2 separate regions of the Homo sapiens genome follow, and region 1 is linked to region 2. A link means that fine-mapping ties the variant in region 2 to the expression of a gene that starts in the linked region. Tissue or cell type: tibial artery. Region 2 holds a variant in brackets; the other region holds the start of a gene. All regions are shown on one strand. Distances are from middle to middle.

Region 1 (5,381 bases), 24 kb before region 2:
GACTGACATCATGTGCTAGGCCCCAGCAAACCAAACAAACCAAAACACATAGATCCTAAAACAGACCAGGTTTTGTTTTTCTCCTGCAAACAGGATGTTCCACCATAAGGAGGTACCCTCTACTCAGTCCTTGTTCCCACTGTACAAAACTCACTGTTGTTTTACTGTTTCCCAGTGGGTTTCAAGACCAAATAAGTTCATTTATGATGGTGGTAGTGACATGAATGACTAAAGGTTTGGTCAATCTCTCAAAATTGAGAAAATGACCAAAAGGGGGAAATTGTTAAAGCAAATTAAATATAGCCTGAGAAGGACTCCGTATTTCTATATTGGAGTCTCTGTGGATGAACGGTAACCTAACTTAGGAATATGTGCCTGTAAAAATAGCTGAGTCTTGGCCAATCCCAGCAACCCCAAATCAGGCCAGGAGATAAGGTACTTAATAAAACGTGGAAGTGCTCTGGATAATAGTGGCCATTTTTTTATTGCCTTCTTCCAAACTTATGGAATCACTTCCTTTGTAGTAATTAGCAGAATGTTTCAATTCATCTCCATAATGAACATTCCTGACAGCATAAGTATCCACCCCCTGAAGTTCCTGTTAAATCTTTTAACCATATTCATTTCCTTTCACATAGAGACCATCAAGCTTCAGATGATCATGTGACAAAGTTTCCAGTCAGTTCCAAGTGAAGACACCACCCCTGGCCATCAGGATGCCACACTGTCTCCACTAGACAGAGTAGGGCAAGAGTTCCATGATCTCCAGTAGGTAGGAACTACGCCCCAAGTTGGCATAAAGCAGTTACAGTTCCTCTGCATCCCATAAAGATTTATGGGGGTCATGTCTCTCAGGAGAGAGATGAGGCAGGAGAATAGGGTCTGGAGGCAGGAAACCTAAGGGTTCACCTGACTTCCTAGAACTAAATCAAAAGGAAAACCCCAACTTTCCGCACCTAAGTAACAAACGGACCAGAGACTACTCCCTTTGCAACCCCCACTCCCCACTTTCTGCTTGGCAGATGGAAAATCTTTTGAAAGTACCTCTGATTGCCTTTCCGCAACCAATCCTGCGTTTGCATAGAAGTGTAACTTTGTAACTTCACTTCAGCCTCTGATTGGTTGTGGAAAGCAACCAGTCAGACTGATTGCGGCCAAATATTCTTTTGCATAGGAGTGTAACTTTGTAACTTCACTTTAGCCTCTGATTGGTTGTGGAAAGTAACCGATCAGACTGATTGCGGGCCAAATCTTCTTTTGCATAGGAGTGCAACCTTTGTAACTTCACTTCAGCCTCTGATTGGTTGCTTTCCACAACCAATCAGACTAATTGTGGCACCACTTCATTTACATGGGGTGAACGCCAAGTGGCCAATGGGAAACCTCTAGGAGGTATTTGGACCCCAGAAGATTCTACAGCAGGGGCTCTTGAGCCCATATGCAGGGGCCTGCTCCCACCTTGTGGAATGCACTTTTGTTTTCAATAAATCTCTGCTTTTGTTGCTTCATTCTTTCTTTACTTGCTTTGCTTGTGCCTTTTGTCTAATTCTTTGTTCAAAATGACAAGAACAGGCCGGGTGCGGTGGCTCATGCCTATAATCCCAGCACTTTGGGAAGCTGAGGTGGGTGGATCACCTGAGGTCAGGAGTTCCAGACCAGCCCGGCCAACGTGGCGAAACCCCGTCTCTACTAAAAATAACAAAAAAAATTAGTGGGACGTGGTGGCGCACACCTGTAATCCCAGCTACTTGGGGGGCTGAGGCAGGAGAATCGCTTGAACCCAGGAGGCAGAGGTTGCAGTGAGCTGAGATCGTGCCATTGCACTCCAGCCTGGGCAACAGAGCCAGACTCTGTTTCAAAAAATAAATAAATAAATAAATAAATAAATAAATAAAGGCAAGAACCTGGACACCCTCCACCCGTAAACAGCCAAGACTGTGCCACAGCACTCCAGCCTGGGCGACTGACTGAGACTCTGTCTCAAAAAAATTAAAATAAAACAACAAAAGTATGAACCAAAAAAACCACCTCTGTGGGCTGGATGTGGCCTTGGGGGTACCAGTTTGCAGACCCTGTGTCAAGCGGCCTAGGACCCAATCTGTATCCTTTGTTAACTGTCACCGATACTGACCTCAGACCTGGACCACTGGGATCCTGCCCTGAACCCCGTGCTTTAGTTGGCCCACTCCAGCTGGAGCGTATGTTCCCTTCTAGATCATGCTCCTGGTACCCTGGACTCCGGAAATCCCTGTGTAAACAGCCCTGAGCCTGCTTCCAAGGTCTGACTTCCATCCACCCAGGGCAGCCTGCCCTGCCTGGCCTGAGTATCGTTAGAATGAAGGATGGCAGGGTAGGGGGTGTGTGTTTGCCTGAACCAGTAGACCCCCTTCAGTATGTATGGGATGGAGTCGTGTGGGAATAGAAGCAGCAAGACTACTAGCAAGGGCTCTGCATTTGTACTCTTGCCCCTGGCTAGGCAGTCGCCAGGGGTGGGCCTGCTTCTCACTGACCCGTGGGTCAGGCTGTAAATAAGAGCGACCCTCGATTCACTCTTTACCCTGGGCCAGGCAGTCCGATGCATCCTGCATCCCATCATTCCTAATACCAACTCTGAGGATGCTGACAAGCAGCAGCCCCGTTTTACAGACCGAGGCACAAAGGCTGAACTAAGTTGTCCATAGCTAGTGAGTGGCAGAGGCAGGGTTTCAATGGGACAGTCCGTGGCGGAGCACACTGGCTCCGCCGCCAGCCCCCCTGCGGTACCCATCCGCGCTCGCCGCCTGGGACCGCCAGCCCGGGGCGGGGCGCAGGCAGGGACCCTCCGCTCCCCTCTCCGTCTGCCGCCCGGACGGGCCACCGCGGGGGCGCGAGGAAGGGGTGTTGGGTCGCCAGGGCCCGCCTCCCAGCTGCCCCGGCCGCCGGGGGGCCTGGCGGTGACGGCGGCGCCTGGCGGCGGGGATTTGGCGCGGGCCGGGGGCCGGGGGCCGGGGCGCGGGGGCGCGAGGCTGGATTCCTAGGGCCGCGGCGCTTCCCGGCATGCTCCGCTGCAGGCCCGCGCCCGCGCCCGGACTTTGCCATCGGCGGGGCAGTCGCGGGATGCGCCCGGGAGCCACAGCCTGAGGTGGGTGAGCCCCGCCGGGCCGGGCGGGCCGCGGCGAGTCGGGGAAGGGGACGCGGGGGCGCGGGGCCTGGCCCGGCTGCCGGGGAGAGGGGAGGCGGGTGCCGCAGCTTTGTTCTTGCCGCGGGGCCGCGCGCCCGAAGTTGGGGAAAGGAGTAGGAGCCGCGCCCCGGAGCGCTCCGGGGCCCGTGCGGCGCGTCCCGGGCGGGCTGGGGGTCCCTCCCTCCCGGGGACAGAGTGGGCGTCCTGGGTGGACGAGCACGGGGAAGCGGGTAGGGTCTTGGGTCTGTTCTGTCCTTGTGGTTCTGGAACCGGAGGGGAAGGGGGAAAGTAAGGGAGAGAGAAAGAGACGGAGAAAAACAGGAAAACTTACTCTTCAGTACGCAGGGAAGAATAGAGAAAGAAAAACACAAAGAAACGCCACGCAGACTGCAGAGAAGGACCACGAACACACGCTCCGAGAAACACACTCAGCTCACACGCACTGAGAAGCACACTTAAGATAAACACTCAGGTCACACACACAAGCACACTAAGAAACATTCAGTTCACACACACTCAGAAACACACGCACTCAGAAGCACACAAGATAAACACTCAGCTCACACACAGAAGCACACTCAGAAACATTCAGTTCACACACACTCAGAAACACACGCACTCAGAGGCACACAAGATAAACACTCAGCTCACACACAGAAGCACACTCAAACATTCAGTTCACACACACTCAGAAACACACTCCGAGAAACAGTTCACACTCGCTCAGAAGCACACTCAGCTCACACACACAAGCACACTCGGAGAAACATTCAGCTCACACACACTCAGAAACATACTCTGAGAAACACAATCAGCTCACACCCACTCAAGCACACTCAAGATAAACAGCTCACACAAGCACATTCAGAAAACACTCAGAAACATAGCTAACACTCAGAAACACACTCTGAGAAACACAGCTCACACACTCAGAAGCACACTCTGAGAAACAGCTCACACACACAGAAACAGAAAAACAGCTCACGCACACTAACACAAACACACACGGAGAAACACACTTAGAAGCACACTCAGCTCACACACACCCAGAGAAACACGATCAGAGAAACACTCAGAACGCACAGGAAGAGAGAGGAAACCAAGTGGGTGGTCTTGGAGGCCTGGGGACCGGGGGAGGGGAAGGAGAGACACTGAGAAGCGGGAGACGGGAGCAGCAGAGGGAAAGATGCCTGGAAAGAGAAACAGAGATAAAGGCAGACATAAGAGGAGGCAGAAAACACAAAGGCCAAAAGGAGGTGGTTAAAAGGACAGTAAAGAGAAACACACACGTAGAGAAACAGAGGCGGACCCTGAGAATTACCCCCCTCCCCCACCTACCTCTCACAAAATCAGCGACACACACAGAAGAGGCAGATGCCAGCCTTCTCCTTCTTGTGGTCCAGTGAGCTCGAGATGGGAGAGCAGCTCTGTGAGCCCTTTGAGAAAGGCTTCCTTGGCACTTTAAGCCAGGCATGTCCCAACCTTGTCTACCTGGCAAACTCCTGCTCATCCTTCAAAACCCAGCTCTAGCCTCACCACTCCTGTGAAAGTGTCAGTTCCCAGAAAGTGTCATGCAAGCACAGTTACTCTCTTTTCTGTGTTCTTCTGCAGGAAGCACAGGCACATGGAGTTGAAGTGGTTTGTCACCTGTCTGCCTCTCCCACCAACTCCTTAAGATCAGGGTCTCTGTCCTATCTATCTCCAATCTCCAGTGCATGATGCATAGTAGATGATCAATAAATACTTAGTGAATGGTGACCGAGAGCGTTTGGACCCTCCGAGACATGGAGGATAGAATTAAGTGCAAATAGAGGAAAAGCACCCTCCTGGTATTCTAAGGACTCCTAAGTCAGAGTGTCTTTTTTTCACGTGGGGAAATTAAAGCCCAGAGAGGGGAGAATGCTTGCACAAAGAGAGACAAGCAGGAGGCCTACAATGAAATAACAGTGAATATGTACTTCTGTGAGATGCCCTTGTTCTTCTGGCTTATGAGTTTAAAATAGGTGTGAAAGACCCCGTTCTTCAGTTCCTCTCTCCAGAGGCAGCTACTGTTATCAAGTTACATTTTATGTGTGTTTGTGCCTATCGATGTGTTCATACTAAAAAAATTCTGTGCACTAGTATATACAAATGCACGGACTTCTTTCATTCTTCTTTTGTACACAAATAAAAGAATTCTATGAGAAAAAGAAATAGATGTGAAACAGTCTCCTGAGTGAAA
Region 2 (5,381 bases):
TAAAAAAATACTAATTGCGAAGTCCTAGCCATAGAGATTCTGGTTTAATTGGTATTGAGTGAGACCCTGGCATTGTTATTTTTAAACAGATTCTAATGTGCACCCAGGGATAAGAACCACTCACTAGTCTAATGGATGAAACAGATGTGGAGACAAATGATTTTAATACAATGTGAAGGCAGAAGTAAGCACAGAGGGCAGGAGGAGAACAGAAGAGAAACCCGGGATCCAGCTTAGGAAGTGAGAAAGCCGGGCAGGTTACCCAGAGTGGATGACTCAGTGCCCCGTCTCATCCCAGAAGAACTTTTTGCAGAGCCCACCTTTCCTCCCATTTTCCAATCAAATAGGAGAAATGAAAGTATCTCCTAGAGTTACCTTTTATCTTTTTTTTCCCCCAGATGCAGTGTTTATTGTTTGATTTGTAGTGCTTATTGTTTTTGGAGTTTAAATTCTCCCTGCATGTCTGATTTCAGGGTACCAACATGATGCCATTGAACATGGGACGTGATGTGCATAATCAGCTCTTGGGAACCTTCAGGTGTGGGCTACAGCACCTCACTGGACCGCTGGGTTCCTAGTAGAGTGGAGGAAGTGTTCACTTAGCCACAACTTTGCTTCACCCTGGAGGCCAACTGAGGCATGTTAGTATACCCTCTCCCTGTAGTTCTGGAGTGAGGACATTGGAAAGCTAAACAGTGGTGCTTGATTCAAGGTGCTTGATCTAATTTCTGTGGCCTTTGTCTGAAGAGGGAGGAATAAGAACGTGTCAACCTGGAATTCCCAGACTGGCTGATTGGGTCACATTTGGAAAGCTGCTGTGTGCACATCTGATTATCCTGCACCTAGGACTATGATTCATTTCTTCTTTCTCAGAACGTGTATCAGTTTGTTATATTGATTAGCCTGATTGTCTGAATAGTGTCTTTCTGTGTCAAATCTATGAAAGTTTGAACCCTATATGCTTTTGCTGAATACTGTATTTCCAATACCTAGTAATTATACCTAGACTGACACATAGTGGGAATTTTTTTCTTCAAGTTTAAGTGAAAATTTATTTATTTTTTTAAATCTCCAAAAGCTTCCCATTGTTTATTATTATTTTTATTTTATTTATTTATTTTTTAATTTTTAAATTTTTTTATTATTATACTTTAAGTTCTAGGGTACATGTGCACAACGTGCACGTTTGTTACATATGTGTACACGTGCCATGTTGGTGTGCTGCACCCATTAACTCGTCATTTACATTAGGTATATCTCCTAATGCTATCCCTCCCCCCTCCCCCCACCCCACGACAGGCCCCGGTGTGTGATGTTCCCCTTCCTGTGTCCAGGTGTTCTCATGGTTCAATTCCCACCTATGAGTGAGAACATGCGGTGTTTGGTTTTTTGTCCTTGCAATAGTTTGCTGAGAATGATGGTTTCCAGCTTCATCCATGTCCCTACAAAGGACATGAACTCACCCTTTTTTATGGCTGCATGGTATTCCATGGTGTACATGTGTCACATTTTCTTTATCCAGTCTATCGTTGATGGACATTTGGGTTGGTTCCAAGTCTTTGCTATTGTGAATAGTGCCGCAATAAACATACGTGTGCATGTGTCTTTATTAGCAGCATGATTTATAATCCTTTGGGTATATACCCAGTAATGGGATGGCTGGGTCAAATGGTATTACCTTTTATCTTAAGGAATAGAAGAGCGATTATGAGCATAGGCCTGGGATGCAAGAAACACATTCAAATCCCAGCTCTGCCACTTACTGTGTGGCCTTACACAAAATCGTGTGTGTGTGTGTCTGTGTGTATGTGTGAATTGACGGAGCTAATGTATGTAATGTGCCTCACCCACTGCTTTACATTCAGTAGATGCTCAAAAACATTGTAGCCATGGGCCGGGTGCAGTGGCTCACACCTGTAATCCTAGCACTTTGGGAGGCTGAGGTGGGTGGATTGCTTGTGGCCAGGAGTTTGAGACCAGCCTGGCCAACATGATGAAACCCTGTCTCTATTAAAAATACAAAAATTAGCCAGGCACAGTGATGTGTGCCTGTAGTCCCAGCTACTTGGGAGGCTGAGGCAGGAGAATTGCTTGAGCCTGGGAGGCGGAGGTTTCAGTGAGCTGAGATTGCCCCACTGCACTCCAGACTGGGCCACAGAGCAAGATGCTGTCTCAAAAAAAAAATGTAGCTATGTACACTTCAAAGTACACAAACACACAAATGCACATGCTGATGATGCTCAGTGTGTCTTCTTCCAGCAGCAAGTACTCAGATGACTTTCCTTGTTTGCCCTGCTGGCCCATCCCTGCTTGGGGGAGATACTTCACTTGGTCTGTCTCCATGTGATCTTTGAAGGCAGGTGTCTGAGCCTCAGCTCCCATGTGCCTGCTCCTCTCCAGTCCCTTCCCTTGTCTTCCCCAGTTGTTTAGCATCTTCTTTACCTCCAGTGTTCCTGCCAACATTGGTCCCTGGCTCATTGTCTGGTCTGAAGCTTATCATGGATCTGAATGTGATGGTTCTCCCACAGCTCGCTCTGTCATCCCTGCTGTGTTTTCCCTTATGGTGGCTGAGTGGTCCACTGCCATCCTGCATGGCACCCCCAGC[C/G]TCACCTGCTCCTGCCAGTGCTTGTGGTGGGACTTGAGCTGGAGCTGCAGCTGGAGGGCTCCAGCTTGCCATAGCTGCCCACTGTCCTTTCTAAATGTATTATTATTGCCTTGGCTAGGCCTCTCCTTTTCCTGGGACAGCAATCTGAGGTTTTCTTGGTCTTGAGGCCATATAGAGACCTTGATTGCCAGACTCTGACTCCCTGGGGAGTGCTTTCTTAAGTTTATAGCTTGGCCCATTCTGGAATGATGCTGTAGTCTTCCTCTAAAGCCTGCCTCCCACTTTCTCTGAGCCTTCCCTTGCTCCTGAAACAGAACGATTACACTGTTCTGATGTCCTTACTTTCTTATTTCTCACCTTTCCCTGTGCATTCTCTCTCAACCCTGTGGCAGCCCTCTGACCTCCTTGCATTTCTGGCGAAGGTCTATGCATGGCATTGCCTTCCTGCCTGCCACTCCGTTTGTCTCTCCTAATTACTGGGATTCTGTTTATACAGACTTCTCACTTTGGCTCTTTGGTTTTTTAAAAGTGATTTCTGCTTCAATTCAGCACTTTACCATTTCTCCTTCTCCTCTTTGTTATTTACTTCTGCAAATGGGATTATTAATTTTACTCTTTGAAACTTTTGGCTTTGTCCTCCCCTGATATGGCTTGGCTCTGTCCCCACCCAAATGTCATCTTGAATTGTAGCTCCCATAATTCCCATGTGTTGTGGGAAGGACCCAGTGAAAGACAATTGAATCATGGGGGCAGTTTCCCCCATACTGTTCTCATGATGGTGAGTAAGTCTCACGAGATCTGATGATTTTATAAGGGGTTTCCCTTTTCACTTGGCTCTCTCATTCTCTCTTGTCTGCTGCCATAAAAGATGTCCTTTGCTCTTCCACCATGATTGTGAGGCCTCCCCAGCCATGTGGAGCTGTGAGTCCATTAAACCTCTTTTTTTTTTTTTTTATAAATTACACAGTCTTGGGTATGTCTTTATTAGCAGCATGAGAACAGACTAATACATCCCCTGAGAGAGGCTTTTCTCTTATTGTCTTTCCAGATGACCCAGCCCCATTTGTCTTATGAAGGGTGAATAAGACTCCTTTTCTCTTCTTTTAAAAATTTATTTTTATTGATATGTATATTAGATATACATACTTTTGGGGTACAGGTGATAATTTGGTACATTCATGTAGTCAAATCACAGTAATTGGGACATCCAATACCTTTGTTAAAAACTTCAGTGGAAATAAATTTAAAGGAGTTTAATCAAACAATGAATGATTCATGAATCAGGCAACCCCCAGAATCACAGCATATTCAGAGAGACTCCAGGGGTGCCTTGTGGTCAGAACAAATTTATAAAAAGGGAAGTGAGGTACAGAAATAAGAAGTGAGGTATAGAAACAGCTGGATTGGTTACAGTTGGTGTTTAACTTAGTCCATGAGTAGTTTAACTTAGTCCATGAGTAGATGAAGTGTGGCCACTGGGATTGGCCAAGACTCAGCTATTGTTACAGGTGCATACTCCTAAGTTAGGTTTTCAATCTTGCCTGCCTATTAAGCTGGGTTACATTTTGTCCACAATCACTCATATATAGAAGTATGGAGTCCTTCTCAGGCCATATTTAATTTGCTTTAACACCTTAAATATTTATCTTCCTTTAAGCGAGGAACATTCAAATTATTCTCTTCTAGCTATTTGGAAATATACAATTGATTAATGTTAACTATAGTCACACTGCTGATGTATCGAATACTAGATCTTATTTTTTCCATCTAAGTCTATATTTGTACCCATCAATCAACTTCTCTTCATGCCCCTCTCCCTGTACCCTTCCTGGCCTCTGGGACATCCTTTCTCTTAGTTGGTGTTGTTGTTGGACTGATCACTCTGTCCTGACCTGGTAGGACTTTGCTCATTCCCCATCTCCTCTCCTCAGGAGAACACATGCCACACTCATCTTACTGGAGTCTGTGGATTCCTTAAAACAGCCTGGGAGATCTGGAGGGGTAGCAACTATTATTACTGGTTTTTAGTTAGGAAAATGAGACTTAGCAAGGAGGAAACAGGCCTAGGAAGGGAAACTCACGCTCCAAGCTCATGCAGCCAGTAAGGGAAGAACTGGGAAAGAATGCACACCAAGGAATTCCCAGTTCATTGCATGGAGGAGAGGAGGTGAGTGTGCTACTCAGAGCCCCTAACATCTGTCATCCTGTAAAAGCTATAATAAAAAGTCATAAATGCATAAACAGTGTGAAAAAGTTCAAAGGTAAACTCATTAAGTTCAGAAATATAAGGGGTATGCCTAGGGCCAAAAAAAAAAAAAGTCATCTAATTATGGGACGCACTAGCACAGTGTGGTAGAATGTTAAAATAGCTGAGAGGAGCCTGCAGAGACAGGGGCCTTGGGTGACTGGGTCCCTACTGCATGTTGGGAGCTGTTGGAAACACCTTACATGCATTATTTTATTTAATCTTCACAAGAGATGAATGACCTTATGAGGCTGGTGTTATTACATCCACCAACTCAAGGCGCAGAGAGGTCAAAGCACTTGCTCACAGTCACAGAGTGGCTTAGGAGCTGATTTGGGATGAGAGACCAGGTCTCTCAAATTCCATTTTCATGTGCTTGCCTCCATGTCACGATTTGCCCAGTTTGCTGAAAGACAGACCTGCACGTGGCCCCTACAGAAGAGATACATCTCTCTTTGGGAGAGGTTGGCATTGGGGAGGAAAGCCCTGCCCGTCAGCCCTCCTCCTGGCTGCAGCGCCCTGGCTAGCTGT

The links. PIP is the estimated chance that this variant, and not a neighbour inherited with it, causes the effect.
Region 1: TMEM98 starts here. The variant in region 2 is the best candidate, but not a certain one, in a credible set for the expression of TMEM98 in tibial artery (GTEx, PIP 0.58).

The regions. Positions count from the first base shown.
Region 1 is chr17:32,925,117-32,930,497 of GRCh38, forward strand. TMEM98 (transmembrane protein 98) reads left to right here and starts at 3,037. Exons shown (of 8, transcript NM_015544.3): 1 at 3,037-3,121.
Region 2 is chr17:32,949,285-32,954,665 of GRCh38, forward strand. No RefSeq gene overlaps it. Among named protein-coding and RNA genes, the nearest start is that of TMEM98, 24 kb to the left of the region's middle. The variant C/G (reference allele first, on the strand shown) is at 2,606.